3 linked regions of the Homo sapiens genome follow. The protein of the gene in region 1 purifies or fractionates together with the protein of each later gene. This does not show direct contact. Each region holds a gene or a part of one and is shown on either strand. Other genes may lie near its edges. The genes, in order: RNASE13, LRP2 and CLCC1.

What was found.
Region 2: the proteins of RNASE13 (region 1) and LRP2 purify together in Homo sapiens (affinity purification with mass spectrometry, with the first as the bait; one large-scale study listed by BioGRID). This does not show direct contact.
Region 3: the proteins of RNASE13 (region 1) and CLCC1 purify together in Homo sapiens (affinity purification with mass spectrometry, with the first as the bait; one large-scale study listed by BioGRID). This does not show direct contact.

Annotation. Positions count from the first base shown.
Region 1 is NC_000014.9:21,032,296-21,036,433, forward strand, and holds RNASE13 (probable inactive ribonuclease-like protein 13 precursor), read right to left. Parts: upstream 2,513-4,138; 5' UTR 2,361-2,512; intron 2,002-2,360; 5' UTR 1,994-2,001; coding exon 1,523-1,993; 3' UTR 523-1,522; downstream 1-522. UniProt on the Homo sapiens protein: Does not exhibit any ribonuclease activity.
Region 2 is NC_000002.12:169,131,885-169,135,535, forward strand, and holds part of LRP2 (low-density lipoprotein receptor-related protein 2 precursor), read right to left. Parts: intron 798-3,651; coding exon 690-797; intron 1-689. UniProt on the Homo sapiens protein: Multiligand endocytic receptor. Acts together with CUBN to mediate endocytosis of high-density lipoproteins. Mediates receptor-mediated uptake of polybasic drugs such as aprotinin, aminoglycosides and polymyxin B.
Region 3 is NC_000001.11:108,935,955-108,939,605, forward strand, and holds part of CLCC1 (chloride channel CLIC-like protein 1 isoform 1 precursor), read right to left. Parts: intron 2,355-3,651; exon of another isoform or gene 2,212-2,354; intron 1,465-2,211; coding exon 1,123-1,464; intron 1-1,122. UniProt on the Homo sapiens protein: Anion-selective channel with Ca(2+)-dependent and voltage-independent gating. Permeable to small monovalent anions with selectivity for bromide > chloride > nitrate > fluoride.

The sequences.
Region 1 (4,138 bases):
TCAGTTAGCATTCCTCCTCAACAGCTGCTTCCAAGAACAGGATGGAAGAATATATTTGGAGTAAAGAGATGAACCAGATGTGGAGGTAAAAGTATCTACTACTTGTGTTCACACATTACTGATATCCACCTCTCCACCCCCACCCCTCAAAAGGGTGTAGCAATTCCTCACGTGATGGACTATGACTATATCACATATTAGATCCTTCCCTGTCCCTCCACCTTCCTCATCTGTTGCAATTCAGGTTTTTTGGGTGGAGGAGTAGAAGCCAGCTAAGGTTGCCTGACTTCTATTACAAATTTGTTCCAGAGCTGGGGTAAGGGGAGAGTCTATTTTCAACACCCAGCCCAGAACTAAGTTTTACCCCACATCACCTCCATCATGGGGCACATGGGACAGAAGAGCTTACTGACTGCTAAGGGTAGCTCAGGAAGATGGCCAGATGAGGCAGGCTGCCAGGATTCCAAGAGCAGGAGTTCTGGTGCACTGAAGAAAAAGCAATTAAATCACAACAGAGTCAGATGTGTGTTATTAACTTTTTATTTTGAATTGATTATGGGTTGACAGGAAGTTACAAAAAATGGTACAGAGGGGGCTCGTGTGCCCTTCACCCAGTTTCCCCCAATGGTTACATCTTACATACTCAGATGTGGTTTTAGAAATTTATGTTCGATTAGAGCCGGGCCTGCCTCATTCGCTGCCTGGTCAGGGGCAGACTCTGGAGTCTGGGGGATTTGGGAGGAGCTTCTGGAAGAGAAGGGAAGCAGGAACCTCTGGGGAATGGGTGAGAGAAGATACCTTGAAATGCCAGTGAGCCAAGGTAAGAAGACTGGAAGAAAAAGAGGTTGGAAAAAGGAAGGCAGGGTGACTACGGTTGTTGGGAGTGTGGGGGAGACAGTCCTAGGCTCCATGGTAAGAGGAAGCAGGAGAGGACAGTTATATGAAGGGAGAAACCATGATTTCACAGAGAGAAGCAGGCTGGAAACTGGGGGTTGTGGGGAAGTGAGGCTAACATGAGTCTGAGGGCCTCAGGGAGGTTCCTATAGCTAGCCATATCCCCTGAGTAGGTGGGTGAGTGGAGGGAATTATAAGGGAACTGGGGGAGGCTGACATGAGAAGGCTGGTGGGGATGGGGAGGTGAGACTCGGAGCTGGTGCCTGTTGCCATGGTGTGAGCTGAGGCCCTGGGCCTCCATCCAGGACTTAGGATCTGGCCCAGTGGGTGGACAGTCACTGCCAACTGGACACAGTCAACTTCTTGGGTGGGTTTTACTGTCTCTGGGAGAGGAAGGATGATGAGGAGGTGGGGGCGAAGAGGGGGTAAACAAGCTGGAAAGAACCTAGAAGATAGCACCACTTTGCATGGTGATCAAAGCCCTGGACATTTTCGCACCCACCTGGTCTCTTGGGAGGGGACCCTGCCTGCCTCGTAAGTCAGGAAGGAAGTCTTGTTACAGGGATCAGAGTGTTGGAAATGGAGACAGCTGGCCTGTGGTGGTAGAGGTTGGGGAGTGGCTCAGGAATTAAATTCCCGAATAGAGACCAGCGATACCTATTGGATCAGCTTCATACTTGCGGGAGCAGAGTAGGTAGAGCTTCTGGTTGGTTAGGGTGCTATTGTAGTAGCAGCTAGTGGGTGGCTGTTGGTGGCTCAGGGAGCAGACCGTGATGGGGAGGGAATCCTGGGTGAGTGTGCAGTATTCATTGTAATTCTCACAGAAGCTGTCACTATACTTGCAGAACTTCTGGATGGCCTTCCAAGGGGCATGTATCACATAATGGATCTTTGGGCAATCTGAATTTTGCATCTTGCCTCGCATATAGGACATCAGACCATTACAATAGCCCCGGAAACCCTTTGGGTAGTTAACCCTGGGATAGTCAATGCTTAAGGTATAGAAGTTCCTGCTGCCAATCTGCATCTTGATGTCCATGACCAGAGTTGGCCCCAGAACAAGCTGGAGGAAAAGGAGCCGGGTCACAGCTGGTGCCATTCCTCCTGCTGGTAGAGTTAAGGTGGTTGGGGGCAGCAGTGGGCCTGAAGTGGCTGTCTGCCACATCCCAGAGCCTCCAGCATTCCCAACCCAACAGTACTTTAGAGATCATCTCACCCATAACCAAGTTCTCATGACCCAGAAAGAGGAGATGCTTGCCCAAGGCCACCCAGACAACCAGCCACCTTCAGCCAGCCCTGCTCCCCTGGTCCACCACAGAATCTCAGCCTCTGCAGAGTCCGTGAGCTACATTTGCAGAATAAGAGCTCTAACTGGTCCTTGGGTGAGAGACTCTTCCCAAGAGTCCTTGGGCCCCTGGCACTCCTGCTAGTAAAAAATGCAGAGAAGAAAGAAGGAGCAGGCTGACCTGACAATTCTCTGGCAGCTGGGAGGAAGGACAGGAGCTGAAGATAGCTGGGTAGGGACGTGTATTCTTCTTGCCAAGGCCAAGACAGTCAAGAGATGAGGAGAGGCTAGAAAGGTTTCTAGGTAAAAATCAGTCTGGGAGGAGGGAATGTCCCCGAGTTTGATGAGCCCCTGTGCTAAGAGGGTTGGATGGGTGGGAGGAAAGAGGCATTACTATCTGGTCTCCTCCTCTACAGTGTCATTGGAACACTTACTTCCAATCTCCTTGCCAAAAGTTCCTAAGTGCCTGGGCTTTCTTTGATGTTTTCTCTGTTCCATAGCCTGTGCTCTCGTGGCAAGGTGAGTAGGAAAGCACTGTTATGTTTCTGAGGAACAAAGTGCTTCTTATTCCTGACCCTCAGAGAACAGAGCATTCGCCACTTTGTCATCCCACTCACGGGAGCCCAGGAGGGCATGTACTCAGGGGCCTCCCACCAAAGTGCTGGGCTGAGAATCAAAGACCTCCATGTGGACTCCCCACGGTCCCTATCAGCCTTACTCCTGTCACACCCACAGCCTTCACCTGTGACCTCAGGCCCTGTCAGAGTTTGAGCACTACTGGAAATCTCTGCATGCTGACTCTGAAGCCTCAAACTTGGCAGTTTGGATTTGAAAGCATAACCTGAACATGAAAAGCTGTGGATGCCAGAGCCTGGCATGATCCGTTTCGTACTGTTGGTTGATCTCTGAGTGGTTTGCCATGCTGGGGAAAGGGCCACGCTCCTATCTTTTTCATCAACATCTTCCCTTTCATCAGAATCAAAGAGCCAGCTCCCTGGAAACTGCTAGCTCTTGCCCTTGACTTCCACAGGTCACTCAGCCTTGTTAGTCTGCAAGGTGTCTTCCAGATTTGGGGCCTCCTCTTAGGAGAGCCTTTTTACCTTTGCTGGGCAGCAGAAAAGGGGAGTCAGAACACAGAAAGCTGAGTGCTCCAACACCCTCAGTATAGCTCAGGAGGAGGGAGTAAGGCCGCAGAGAGAAAGATTGGTGTTCCTCATGTAGAGCCCCCTAAACTGGCACTTTCTGACAGCACAAACCACAGTCCAAAATGGAATCCATCCTCCCCATAACTTGTTTCTCTTCCTGTTTTGTCAACTCAGTTTCCCTGGTTACCTATGCAAGAAACCTGAAAGTGATCCTAGACCCCTCCACCTCCCCAATCCCAGCTACGGGGAGGCGGTCCTGCATGGTGGTTAAGATCAAGGCTTTTGAGTGAAACAGACCAGGAATTGAATCCTGCCTCTGCAGCTTACAAACTGCACACCATCTATCTGTTTACGAAACCACTGAAAGCTTCCTTGTTTCATCTGTTCATGAGGATAGTATTTTTTACCTCACGGCAGTATGAGGATCCATTAAGATGTATATCAAGAGTTTTTAGACCAGTGCCCGGCACATGGTGAGTCCTCAGTATGAGCCTGAGTCCATCAGTCACACAGCCCTGACAATCTTAAACTTTTCCCAAGCCCATCTCTTCCATTCTTATTTCTTCCTCAGTGGATGCTCTCGTCTCGCCTGGACAGCACACACACTCCAACTCCAGTAAGACTCAACTCAAATATATCTCTTATACAACTTCAAGAGAAAAAGTGTGATCCCTTCTTTCGTCTAAAAGTCTGCAATAGCTTGTTTCTCATAGGGTAGGGGTGCCCAGTCTTTTGGCTTCCCTGGGCCACATTGGAAGAAGAATTGTCTTGGGCCGCACATAAAATACACTATCACTAACGATAGCTGATGAGC
Region 2 (3,651 bases), on another chromosome or scaffold:
ATACATTAATACAGAGTTTAATATCAAATATATTTATTGAATTTCTTCCTGCAGACCAAATAGTGTACCAATTGCAAAGGACCTGCAGGCATGTTTAAGAAGCTCCATCTAGTGGCATTTTTTTCTTTCAATCTCCAGTATTAAACACCATCCCTGACACATCGAGGGGAATAACGTTAGTTAGATGATTGGTTGGCCAATAATGAATAGATGGATGATGAATGGAAAAATTAGTGCCATCTAGTGGTAAAGATCTGTAATAGCAGGAGAGCGAAGAACAGCTTGAAAGAATAAAGATGCATGCTGTAGAGAAATCACGGCACACACAGACGGATCTTTCATCTGTATCTTTGACACCGTGAAATCTTTATTCATACTGAGTCAATTTCTCAACTTAAATGTCTCTGGTCTGAAGATACTGGATCCAGAAGTCTATTTGTTCTTCTTTGTGACATGTCCTCCTATGTTACAAGGAACATTATTCCCAACTCGATGTTAGAATGTAGCTTTATTTGGTGGAAAGTTTTTCAATCTATGACTTTTTAAAAAATTATATTTATTAACTGTCAACACATCTTGAGATCTTTGAGCCTTCCAGAATCTCCCTTGTTTGCTTAAGGTTAATAAAAACCCAGTCATCCCAAAGTTTTTCCAAATCCCACATTATTTCAGGAGTCGGCAACTGTTACCTGAGTTCCATCAGCAGCTGGTGAAGTTGGGTTTGTCTCTGGAACTATCTCAGAAGGGTTTATGGGACTTCCATAATTCTTATTATCCACATTTTCAGATACAGTCACCTGTGGACATGTTAAAGGCCTTTACCCAATTTTGAAAGAATTTAGTAGTAAATAAATTTGCTGTAAAGTTTGTACCAACTCTGGCTCTTTTTGCCATCTTGTTCTCCCACAGACATCATCAGGCACCATTTTTATTGCATGACCCAGTAGGCCAGGACTAAACATCACTCCCACCGCCCCAAAATCAAGAGCAGCAACCACTAAGTCACCTCATACCTTAATCCTGGGAGGCAAATACATCCCTCACTGGTCACACTCTCACTTATTACTAGCAATTTCTACTGTATTCTCTATACCTTCTTACTCCCACTGTTGACCAAATTTTTGGATAATCATACTCTAGTTATATACTGGAAGCCAAATCCTAGAAGAACAGCAAGAATAATTCCCCAACCTCACTGATGAACTGAGAATCCTATCTTTGGATCTTAATAATTTCTTTGAATATTAATAAATCCTATCTTCGGAAATTAAGATTTCATAGTACTACTAAAAAGAGGTTGAATTTTTGAAAAGATGAGAATGATAGAATTAATAATCTTCTACGCATTTTTCTATAACATTCATACAATTCCAAGGTTCCCTTTTAAGACCAAATTACCATGAATGCATAATAAACTACAAGGTAGACAATTCACTCCTTTTCCTATATTTTCACATTCATTACTTGTTTATTCTGAAACTTGGATATGCATTTGTATACATGGCCTCATTTTATTTTAAGTGAAGATGTCAAATGAAATGTCGTATCTCTTTTATCATGTGATTAAAGTTTTCATATCTGTTTATCAGAGGATCAGGGAAAATGCTTTCAAGATTTAAACATTTCCGATCTTAAAATCACAAAATATTTGTAAAATAAACATTTCTAGTTTCTGTATTAAAATGTGCCATATCTCGAGTTCAAAAGGAGCATTAGGTGTTAACAATGACAGTTATTCATTGTCACTAAGGCCATAGTTGTTGTGACAAAGGAGATACATGTTCGCAGTTGACAAGCAGTAAAAGTGGCGCTGGGGCTATTGATGCAGACCTTATGTAAAGTTATTCCCTTCACCTATATTCCTATTTCATCTCCCAGCTCTTCTTAAAGATGACGGACTGAATCTCAAACATGCTTTCTTTACTATTCCTTTGCACCCGTCATCCCAGCCTCTCTTCACTTTCACTTAGACTGAACCTGACACCCATCAGGCTCAGCAAATTACCTGGGCTGTACTGCTGCAAAGCTTCACAGACAGCCCCCATTACTTCAGTCAAGCCCAAATTTCATCCTCATCTGTTACCTATTTCGGCATAATTCTCATAAAAACACACATGCTCTCCCTGCTGATCAAGTCTGACTAATCTCCCAAACCTCAATCCCTTCTACAAAACAACAACTCCTTTCCTTCCTAGGCATGGTTAGTGCAGTCAGAATTCTTACACAAGAGCCGGGACCGTGCCCTGTAGCCTTTCTGTCCAAACAACTTGACCTTACTGTTTTAGCCTAGCCCTCATGTCTGCGTGCAGCGGCTGCCACTGCTTTAATACTTTTAGAGGCCCTAAAAATCACAAACTATGCTCAACTCACTCTCTACAGTTCTCATAACTTCCAAAATCTATTTTCTTTCTCCCACCTGACGCATATACTGTCTGTTCCCCAGCTCCTTCAGCTGTACTCACTCTTTGTTGAGTCTCCCACAATTACCATTGTTTCTGGCCCAGACTTCAATCCAGCCTCCCACATTACTACGGATACCACACCTGACCCCCATGACTGTATCTCTCTGATCCACCTGACATTCACCCCATTTCCCCATATTTCCTTTTTTCCTGTTCCTCACCCTGAACACACTTGGTTTACTGATAGCAGTTCCACCAGGCCTAATCGCCACTCACCAGCAAAGGCAGGCTATGCTATAGTATCTTCCACATCTATCATTGAGGCTACCGCTCTGCCCCGCTCCACTACCTCTCAGCAAGCCGAACTCATTGCCTTAAGTCAAACCCTCACTCTTGCAAAGGGACTACATGTCAGTATTTATACTGACTCTATATATGCCTTCCATATCCTGCACCACCATGCAAGAGGTTTCCTCACTACACAAGGGTCCTCTATCATTAATGCGTCTTTAATAAAAACGCTTCTCAAAGCCGCTTTACTTCCAGAGGAAGCTGGAGTCATTCACTGCAAGGGCCATCAAAAAGGCATCAGATCCCATCGCTCAGGACAATGCTTATGCTGATAAATTAGCTAAAAAAGCAGCTAGCGTTCCAACTTCTGTCCCTCACAGTCAGTTTTTCTCCTTCACATTAGTCACTCCCACCTAGTCCCCCGCTGAAACTTCCACCTATCAATCTCTTCCCACACAAGGCAAATGGTTCTTAGACCAAGGAAAATATCTCCTTCCAGCCTCACAGGCCCATTCTATTCTGTCATCATTTCATAACCTCTTCCATGTAGGTTACAAGCCACTAGCCAGTCTCTTAGAACCTCTCATTTCCTTTCCATTGTGGAAATCTATCCTCAAGGAAATCACTTCTCAGTGTTCCATCTGCTATTCTACTACTCCTCAGGAATTTCTCAGGCCCCCTCCCTTCCCTACACCTCAAGCTCGGGGTTTTTCCCCCGCCCAGGACTGGCAAATTGACTTTACTCACATGCCCCAAGTCAGGAAACTAAAATACCTCTTGGTCTGGGTAGACACTTTCACAGGATAGGAAGAGGCCTTTCCCACAGGGTCTGAGAAGTCCACTGCGGTCATTTCTTCCCTTCTGTCAGACATAATTCCTCGGTTTGGCCTTCCCACCTCTATACAGTCCGACAGTGGACCGGCCTTTACTTGTCAAGTCACCCAAGCAGTTTCTCAGG
Region 3 (3,651 bases), on another chromosome or scaffold:
GACCAAGGAGGCTTCCAGGCCATTGTAATACTGGCTTTCCCCTCAAGTGAGATAGGAAGTCACTGGAAGACTTCTGAGATAGGTGACAGGTAATTACTAACTATAAAAGCTGGAAGGACCATCTTAAGTTGTTTTTTTTTTTTTTTTTTTTTTTTTGAGACGACGTCTCACTCTGTCACCCAGGCTGGAGTGCAATGGCACGATCTCGGCTCACTGCAACCTCCGCCCCCTGGAATCAAGCAATTCTCCTGTCTCAGCCTCCCAAGTAGCTGGGATTACAGGTGCATACCACATCACGCCTGGCTAATTTTCTTGTATTTTCAGTAGAGATGGGGCTTTGCCACGTTGGCCAGGCTGGTCTTGAACTGCAGACCTCCAGTGATCCGCCTGCCTCGGCCTCCCAGTGCTGGGATCACAGGCGTGAGCCGCCGCGCCTGGTCCATCTTTCTAGATACATGTAGATATGTTTATTTTTATATGAAACTATGGGAAGGGATTCTATAATTTCCCAGATTCTATTATGCTCATAACTGTTTCAAAGGTTTAACAGCTGCAATTTAAACATTTCAAATGACAATACAAATTCCTCTCTCAAACAGAAATGGAAATGTCCCTTTAAAAGACTGATAATGGTGAAAAACTTCTTCTTACCATTCTACAGGTAAAAAGTATAGTCTAGCCAGCCAATGACACTGAAGATTTGGGGAAGCAATGTTTTTGATCCCTGGCCCCAGCCCACTCTTCCATCCAGCTAATCCTTTAGGGCTCTACTGTACCTTCCCTAGAGCTCCGGGCCTTCAGTGATGCCTTCTCTCTGATCTCTTCAAAGATAGAAATTTCTGTCATGCTCATACGCTGGCTTCCCATGAAGGTTCATATGAATTACCATCTGCTCTAACAAACTACTGTTAAATTGTATTTTACATAAAAGTTAAATCTAATTTTATTTCTTCTGAGGAAGCTGAACTAACTTTTGACCAGAAAGGGGAGAGAGTGAGTGGCTGTATCACTCATGATATAATTAAGGGTGAGGGGTAAAAGAGTAAAAACAATCAGACCTCTTCCAGAAGGATTTAGAACCAGTAATGAAGGGACAGCAGAATAAAAGAGTTGCTGACTTACACTGGGTACCACCGTGGGATGCTCTCGTGCCTCTGCGTCTGGTACATCAAATGCCCGGAGCACTTCAGGGCTCTTGTTGCCAGTCTGAAATCTCAAGTCAACATCTCTCTCTCTCAAAATCTCTCTTCTACCCTCATACGTTTTGGCATAAGGGCCTTGCTCAGTGGGGCCCATTTGGCCCCTATAATGGAAATCGGCATCACCTGCTCCACCATCAGGTCTATAATCAATTTCCTCCTGCCGTCTTCTATCCCGTGGCCGAAGTGCCTGGGGAGGTTCGCTCTCAGGACCGCCTATATGTCTCAGCACATGAACTGATTTTCCAGCACCATAGCAGAAACTCTGTAAGGAAAAGAAATACATTTTCCTGAGGACTCAATGGCTAACTTACAAAAGTTATGAGGCATTTTATTCAGAGTGCTAACAAAGTTATGTAATTTAACTTACTTGTGGCATTTATAGACATAAACATGTTAATTTGACTTTTTTTCATTAGAGACCTCTTTAGATTAATACAAGGCCAGAGTGGCCAATAAAACTTAATAAATCTTTCAGTAGACATTTTAATCAGCTAGACACATTTCGATTGAACTATAACAATGGCAGGCTGAAGCCTAGATATTTAAATTAGAAGGTTCTAGTCTGATAATTATTCATGTTTCTAGATTCATGCCCATCATATAAGGTAAATGCTGAAAATATTTAAAGTTGTATATCATTATGTAAACAATCTTCTGTACATTTTCTTTTTACAAATATAAACTAGGCTTAAGTTACAGCTAAAATTCAACAGGTTTTGATTCACATTCCATGGGAAAAAGTAGGCAGCAGTTCCTTACAGTGTGGCCCAGGGACCCCCGGGGGATACCTGAGACTTTCAGGAGATCTATGAGATCAAAACTTTTCATAATACAAAGACATTATTATTTGTCTTTTTCACTGTCCCCTCCTGAATATACAACGGAGCATTCCAGATGCTAGAGTGACAGCCTCACTCAGACTCAGGGGATGCATGCTTGCGTGTACAGTACTCGTATGTTTTAAATTTGTTTTAACTCCTAATATGTAAGTATCAATAAATATAATCACCTTAAGTAAGAGCTGTTTGTGGGCTTCAATTTTTAAGACTGCAAAGAGGTCCTGAGAACAGAAACTTTGAAAATTTCTGTACTAGTTTTTCAAACACTACTATTTGAAGACAAAAGCAGCAAAAGTCAAAGAGCATAACTTTCCTGAGGGAGCACATGAAACAAAAACAGATGGTGAAGACTCTGCTGATAATTTCAGTTTCAGAGACTAAACTATGACTATAGAACTAATGTCACCTAACAAAAAAATACCCGTCAACCACATAATCCTGTAATCACAAGCCAAAAAACAAAACCAAAAAAGAAACGATTTCAAAGTGAACAGAGATAGTGAATCTTGTATCCTTAGGGAAGAGAATTTCCCTTGGCACATCTGAGTTCTTTTTGTTTTATGCGACAACTGCTTTACTTGGGTAATAGCTAAAAAATCGATAACAAAAAACACTGAATAGACCATGGAGGGATGACGAGTAATATTTCTTCTTAATGTCTGCTCCTGGATCCCCAAACTCTTTCTCAGCATACCCATGTTCTTCCACATCCCTTTCTGGTTCTGTGTCAAACTCAATGCTCTACCCTTCTCACTGCTGCAAAAACTGACTAGAAATAAGAAGTCCCCCTTTCTGGGAGACAGAAATCAACTTCCTATTTCCTGTGTATTAATTTACCAAGGTTAACACATTTAAAAAGAGGTTATTATTCTAAATCACTGCTATGACATATGCAATCAAACTAGAGAACTACTTTCTTGATTATAAAAATATACAAGTAAGTATAATATGTCTGTATCATTTAGAGGGGCAGAGGGGAGGAAAAAAATCTGTATCACTTAAAAATCGCCTTCTCATTAAGCGTGACTTAGCCTGATTTACAACATCAAAGAAGCCCAATAATTTTAGCATTGCCTTTTTTTCTGTAAATCTTGCTAAATATTGACAGTGCTAATATTTAATACTAACCAGTATTACTAATATTAATACTAAGATTTAATATAAATCTTGCTAAATACTGACAGTGCATATATATATATAAATATAAATATATAATATATAAATATATATTATATATAATAAATATATAAATATAGACAGATATATAAATATAAATATATATAGATAGATATATAAATATACATATATGTATAATTTTTTTTTTTTTTTGAGACGGAATCTTGCTCTGTCGCCCAGGCTGGAGTACAGTGGTGCGATCTCGGCTCACTGCAAGCTCCGCCTCCCAGGTTCACCCCGTTCTCCTGCCTCAGCCTCCCGAGTAGCTGGGACTACAGGCGCCCGCCACCACGCCCGGCTAATTTTTTGTATTTTTTTTAGTAGAGACAGGGTTTCACTGTGTTAGCCAGGATGGTCTCGATCTCCTGACCTCGTGATCCGCCCGCCTAGGCCTCCCAAAGTGCTGGGATTACAGGCGTGAGCCACCGCGCCTG